2 linked regions of the Homo sapiens genome follow. The protein of the gene in region 1 interacts with the protein of each later gene in a biochemical or structural test. Each region holds a gene or a part of one and is shown in the gene's direction. Other genes may lie near its edges.

The links. The genes of interacting proteins can lie anywhere in the genome.
Region 2: the proteins of EME1 (region 1) and SLX1A form a complex in vitro, tested with the Homo sapiens proteins (one study listed by BioGRID).

The regions. Positions count from the first base shown.
Region 1 is NC_000017.11:50,376,229-50,379,105, forward strand, and holds part of EME1 (structure-specific endonuclease subunit EME1), read left to right. Parts: intron 1-2,366; coding exon 2,367-2,453; intron 2,454-2,545; coding exon 2,546-2,667; intron 2,668-2,839; coding exon of another isoform or gene 2,840-2,877. UniProt on the Homo sapiens protein: Non-catalytic subunit of the structure-specific, heterodimeric DNA endonuclease MUS81-EME1 which is involved in the maintenance of genome stability. In the complex, EME1 is required for DNA cleavage, participating in DNA recognition and bending.
Region 2 is NC_000016.10:30,192,716-30,196,674, forward strand, and holds the start of SLX1A (structure-specific endonuclease subunit SLX1), read left to right. Parts: upstream 1-1,159; 5' UTR 1,160-1,369; coding exon 1,370-1,557; intron 1,558-1,717; exon of another isoform or gene 1,718-2,024; coding exon 2,025-2,076; intron 2,077-2,170; coding exon 2,171-2,512; intron 2,513-3,959. Other genes in the region: BOLA2B (bolA-like protein 2), read right to left, coding at 260-359, 643-740, 818-880. UniProt on the Homo sapiens protein: Catalytic subunit of the SLX1-SLX4 structure-specific endonuclease that resolves DNA secondary structures generated during DNA repair and recombination.

The DNA.
Region 1 (2,877 bases):
TCCCCTTACAATTACAGGATAAATATGCTTTTATTTTAAAGGATACTTATCAGGGCCCCAGCAGGAAGACAGATGGCACATTCAACTCAGGGTAATTAAAAGAAGATTGAATAAAGGGACTGTTTGCCAAGGCATGGGCAGGGTATGAGGAAACTACCAGTGACAGCATGGTACCTCACAGTAATAACAGCACAACTTAGGTTTTTCGACCTCAGTATTGTTGACATTTTAGATTGGAGAATTCTTTGTTTTGGGTGCTGTCCTATGATGTGCACAATGTTTAGCAGCATTCCTGGCCACTATCTACTAATGTACCCCTCTCAGTCATGACAATAAAAAATGTCTGCAGACACTGCCAGATGTCATTTGTGGGGAAAAATCACCCCCGGTTGAGAACCATTGGCATAGCTGTTACCATCCCTATGCCTGAAGGGATGAGGGGAAGGAGTGGTTAACAGAATTCAGGAGAGAGAAATGGAGAGAGGACCACCTTGAGCGAAGCTATGAGCTGCCACAGAGGGGGACAGCAAACCCTAGGTGACCCCACTGGGAGGGAGCCAGGGGAAAAATACCCTGACTTCACTTTTCTCCTTCCCACTAGTCCTCTCCTCGGGTCCCTGCTGGTGACACCCAGCTGGGAGCCAGAAGACATGTGGGCCCTGTGTTTTTTGTAGAGATTGCAGAGTGTAGCTTGTATTTTTGGTAGAGACGGGGTTTTGCCATGTTGCCCAGGCTGGTCTTCAACTCCTGAGCTCAAGCAATCCACCTGCCTCAGCCTCTCAAAATGCTGCGATTACAGGTGTGAGGCACCTTGCCTAGCACTAAGATTCTTTTTTATCTCACCAGAAGCATCTTGTATAAAATAAGAAAAAAGATTTTTTTTTCCTCTCTTTGATTTCTTTTTTGGATCTGATAACTTTCTCAGTAACACAGGACAGTTCCCCACACTTTTTACTCTGGGGGTATTAGCAAGCCTTTATATTCATAGAGCAGCTTACCCTCTCAAGGCACTCCCACATTCTCTCTTGTGTTTCCATCAGTCATCCTATGGGGTAGGACTTCTCCCCACATCACAGGTGGGGAAACTGGGGCTCAGAAAAGTTAAAAGCCTTGTTGAGGATCACAACGGGAATGAGAACCCAGAGCTCCCCAAACCTACACTTTGCTGTAATATAGGTCTTGCTTTGCTTATAGGGACCCAATCAGAAAACTTTCTATCAAAGTCCTGTTCCCCAATTACTCCATAATACTGTACTGCTGGAGGATTGTTGGCCTTGAGGCATCCTTGACTTTGATTATGCCCTACCTGTGATAAACAGGAGGTACTCTCATAGACTGAAGTTTCCCTTGTGATTCTTGTCTTTGTCACAAAAAAACCTATCTGTTTGTAAGGACCACTCGGCTCACAGCATCTGCCTTCAAAGCCAGAGTCATTTACTTGTACTAACCTTTGGAAGAGTTTCCCTTCCCTCCATTCCCGTATTCAAAATGGCCCCAGCCCCTTTCAACTTGCTATGTTCCTTTTTTCTCTCTTTTTTTTTTTTTGAGACAGAGTTTCACCCTGCTGCCCAGGCTAGAATGCAATGGCATGGTCTCGGCTCACTGCAGCTTCTGCCTTCTGGGTTCAAGTGATTCTTCTGCCTCAGCCTCCCAAGTAGCTGGGATTACAGGCGTGTACCACCACGCCCAGCTAATATTTTTGTATTTTTAGTAGAGACGGGGTTTCACCATGTTGGCCAGGCTGGTCTCGAACTCCTGACCTCAGGTGATCCGCCCGCCTAGGCCTCCCAAAGTGCTGGGATTGGGATTACAGGTGTGAGCCACCGTGCCTGGCCTGCTATGTTCCTTTTTTTTTTTTTGATGGAGTCTAGCCCCGTTGCCAGGTTGGGGTGCAGTGTTATGATCTCGGCTCACTGCAACCTCCACCTCCCAGTTTCAAGCAATTCTCCTGCCTCAGTCTCCCGAGTAGCTGGGATTACAGGCACGTACCGCCACACCCAGCTAATTTTTGTATTTTTAATAGAGATGGGGTTTTACCGTGTTGGCCAGGATGGGCTTGATCTCCGACCTCGTGATCTGCCCACCTCGGCCTCCCAAAGTGCTGGGATTACAGGCGTGAGTCACCGCGCCCGGCTGCTATGTTCCTTTCTTATTCACTGTCTCTGAGATGCAGGGCACCAAGACTGAATCATTGAGGGCTGGGAGGGACAGCGACACTGTTTCTTGCCACAGTGACTTCATTCCAGAAAGGATAATGCATAAGGGGTGGGAGTTAGTTCATTCACCCAGAAGACCTGGGCCACTCTCACAGGTGCTCAATACCTGCTGACCTCCCTCCCTGTGCTGTGTTCTGGGTACTTTGGCAGGACAGAGAGGACTGGGTGGAGGAGCCAACAGTACTGGTGTTGCTCCGGGCAGAGGCATTTGTGTCCATGATCGACAATGGAAAGCAGGTGGGCAGAGCCAGAGGGTGGGAGGACACGGAACAGAGGGCTGACTCTTACTAGGAAGCAAGTATTAATGCAGTTTCTGCCCCTTCATGCAGGGAAGCCTGGACAGCACTATGAAAGGGAAGGAAACGCTTCAGGGCTTTGTAACTGACATCACAGCAAAGACAGCAGGGAAAGCTCTGTCACTGGTGATTGTGGATCAGGAGAAATGCTTCAGGTTTGGATTTGCCCTGGTGATTTCATGTTAAAAGGGGCAGCTCTTGGGCCAAGGGGGGTGAGTTTAGTTTATTCATTGCAGATGTAGGTCACTCTGCAAGGTAGTCCATCTCTAACAAGTCCAGGGGGATGCTCTGGTCCAGTCTTCTTCTGTATCTTCTGCCTGACTTCAGCCTGGAGCTGCTGTTCTTTGATTTCCTCCCCTGCACCA
Region 2 (3,959 bases), on another chromosome or scaffold:
CCTAGATGTCTAAACGGAGTTGCAGAGAGAAGGCTTTCTCGGTAGACCCTGGAAGGGACTTTTACGGTAGAACTTTCATTTTACAAGCAGGGATAGAGGCCTAGATGGGGACAGAGACGTGTCCAAGGTAAAACAATGGACGGAGGCAGGGCAGGGAGAGGCCAGGTCCTAGACTCGGCCTCAGCACCCCTCCCACACACACATCGACACAGAAGCTGGTCCAGATTTATAATTTAATGGCTGTGCAGATCCCAGTCCCTCATTTCTGTCGCTCACGTGCCCACTGGTCTGGGGTCAGGGTTTTCTGTTCAAAGGCATGGATGTGCGGGAGCTCTTCTGCTAGGCACGCGTTCACCAGCCTGGGGCGAGAGATGGGGTTAGGAAAAGGCCAGCGGTGATCGCACACCCCGAGGCTAGGGTGACCCAAGAGACTGGTGTCCCCAAGGTTGTAGTCCCCAGGCCGTGGGAACACGTACTTGGAGAGAGGGTCTACATCGAAATACTCGAAGCAGGGGTCACGAAGGCGGGATCCTCAAGGTCCCTGAGCCACGCCAGGGGGAGTGCGGGAGTCAGGTTGCAGGGGTAGGGGGAGTGGCTGGGGTTGTGGTACAGGAGCTAGGCAAGGTGCTCCCAGGGCCTTACCTGTGTCTCTGAAGCAGCGGTTTCCCCTCGAACTTGGCCGACACCACCAGGACTCGGAAGCTACAGGAGCAACGGTTGAGGGTCGTGTCCTCCACCTCCTACCGAGCGGAAGAATATGAATGGTGCCGAACCCGCCCCCCGAGCTCTTTTCCCCTTGTCCGGCGGCTCAACTCACCACATGCTCCGCCTCCAGGTCCCGCTGCAGCTTCTCGCGGAGGTATTCGGCGCTGAGTTCCATGGCGGCAGTCCAGCTGGAACGGCAGCCCAGCAGGGACACAACCCCAGCTCGGGCGCCGGCCACGCTACCTTGCTGCCTTACAGGAGCCACTTCCGCTGGAAAACTCACTTCCGCCCTTACTAAGGCGTACGTCAACGCAGTACTTCCGCCCTCAAGCAGCCGGGCTTTCCAGCGGTCCAGGCTTTTCGCGCTTGCCATGTGTCAGCCAATCAGAGCCTGAGGAAGGTGGGACTCGGGCGGAGCCGATGCTGAATGGTACGCGCTCGCCGACTGGACAGCAGTCTGGCTTCCGCGGTCGGACTTCTACACCCGCCTCCAGACAGGAGAGGGGCACGTACCGGCGCTACGGCTTCCTGCAGGCTGCCTCCGGATAGTCCCCGAGAGCTTGTTCCGAAGCAAGCACCCTGCAGCCCTAGCGATCCAGCCCTCCCCTGGACCCTAGGTCACGGCAATCAACCCCCTGCTGTGGTTCCCGAACCCCAAGGCCCGATGGGTCCCGCGGGGGTCGCGGCGAGGCCAGGGCGCTTTTTCGGCGTCTACCTGCTCTACTGCCTGAACCCCCGGTACCGGGGCCGCGTCTACGTGGGGTTCACTGTCAACACTGCTCGTCGGGTCCAGCAGCACAATGGGGGCCGCAAAAAAGGCGGGGCCTGGCGGACCAGCGGGCGAGGGCCCTGGTGAGAGGGGGAGGCCTTCTGTGCCGGGAGGAAGGCGTCCCAGAGGAGGCGGACCCCGCGGGGCACAGGCCTGTTGAGAAGGACCGGCCAGGACTGTGACAGAGGCGGGGCGTCTGTGGTGGGGACGGGGCCTGTCGCAGGGGAGGAGCGTGACGGGGAGGCGGTGCCCGGGGCATCTCCGCGGCGGAACTCAGGGAAGGAGCTAGCTGGGGCGGGGGTGATGATCCAGGCTGGGTTCCAGCATAGGGCTCTTGGTGGGCACGCTGGGGTCGGGTGGAATGCAGGAGAGAGAGGAGGTGGGACAGGTGGGTACCTGGGCTGGAGGCAGGGCCTGAGGTGGGCAGGTGCAGAGGGCTGCACTTCTCGGCTGAAGCCGGGAATGAGGACCCCGCTCTCGGGTGGGATTGGAGGGGACCCGCGGCTGAGGCGCTGGGCTGCGACAGGGACATCACCGTTCTCCTCCTCAGGGAGATGGTGCTCGTCGTGCACGGCTTCCCGTCCTCCGTGGCCGCCCTTCGGGTAAGGAAGGAGACCGGGCAGCGGCGGCCGGGTGAGGGCTTGGGTTCCGCCCCTCGCTCCGAGCCGCCCTGATGCCCCTGTACGCCGCCCGCAGTTTGAGTGGGCTTGGCAGCACCCGCACGCCTCGCGCCGCCTGGCGCACGTGGGGCCTCGCCTGCGAGGAGAGACAGCCTTCGCTTTCCACCTGCGCGTGCTGGCGCACATGCTGCGCGCACCGCCCTGGGCTCGCCTCCCGCTCACGCTGCGCTGGGTGCGCCCAGACCTCCGCCAGGACCTCTGCCTCCCGCCGCCGCCGCACGTGCCTCTGGCCTTCGGGCCTCCACCGCCCCAGGCCCCGGCCCCAAGGCGCCGCGCAGGTCCCTTTGATGACGCGGAGCCTGAGCCAGACCAGGGGGATCCAGGGGCCTGCTGCTCCCTGTGCGCCCAGACCATCCAGGTGAGGTCCCCCCGAGGAATGGATGGCTCTAGAGTCCAGACGACTTCGGATCCAGCTCTTTCTTGAGGGAAACCCACTGACACGCTTTGGCCACCCTATCCCCATCTCTAAGATGCTGATGCTATAGGACTTACGGCCATTCCTGAGCAAAGCAGGCCCTGCTCAGGGCCTTCACCATTTCCCCTTCAAAGAAAAGGTTCTTCCCTAGGCCATCAGTACTCCGCTGCACTCCAGTGTGGTCGACAGAGCATGACCCTCTTTTTTTTTTTTTTTTTTTTGAGATGGAGTCTAGCTCTGTCGCCCAGGCTAGAGTGCAGTGGCGCGATCTCTGCTCACTGCAAGCTCCGCCTCCTGGGTTCACGCCATTCTCCTGCCTCAGCCTCCCGAGTAGCTGGGACTACAGGCGCCCGCCACCACGCCTGGTTAATTTTTTGTATTTTTAGTAGAGACGGGGTTTCACCGTGTTAGCCAGGATGGTCTCGATGTCCTAGCCTCGTGATCCGCCCGCCTCAGCCTCCCAAAGTGCTGGGATTACAGGCATGAGCCACCGCGCCCGGCCCTTTTTTTTTTTTTAGACAGAGTCTTGCTCTGTTGCGGAGGCTGGAGTGCAGTGATCTCAGCTCACTGGAAGCTCCGCCTCCTGGGTTCAAGCGATTCTCCTATCTCAACCTCCCAAGTGTGCCACCACACCTGCCGAATGTTTGTGTTTTTAGTAGGGATGGGGTTCGCCATGTTGGGCAGGCTGGTCTCAAACTCCTGACCTCAAGTGATCTGCCCGCCTCGGCCTCCCAGAGTGCTGGGATTATAGGCGTGAGCCACCATGCCTGGACATGACCCTGTCTCTAAAACAATGTAATGAACTGCAGCTCATTCTTGTGTGCACTTTTCTGCACCCCCTTTCCCTTAACACTTACTATTGTCTGGCATGCTACGTGTTTTCTTGATCTCATTAGCCTCTCCCACCCCAACTGCCACACTGCACTATCAGAGGGCAGCACTTATCACTGCTGTAGAACAAAGTCCTGCACTGAGCCGATGGCCCAGAAATTTTCTTTTTATTTATTTATTTATTTTTTTTTTGAGACAGAGTCTTACTCTGTCGCTCAGGCTGGAGTGTAGTGGCGCGATCTCAGCTCACTGCAACCTCTGCCTCCTGGTTTCAAGCAATTCTCCTTCCTCAGCCTCCAGAGTAGCTGGGATTACACGCGCCTGCCACCGCGCCTGGCTAATTTTTGTATTTTTAGTAGAGATGGGGTTTCAACCATGTTGGCCAGGCTGGTCTCAAACTCCTGACCTCAGGTGATCCTGCCCACCTAAGCCTCCCAAAATGCTGGTATTACAGGCATGAGCCACCGTGCCCGGCCTAAATATTTAATAAAATAATGGACGATGGGTGCCTTCTACTGAGCTCCCGGTAATTGTGAGTGAGTAGAGGACTTGCCCTGGG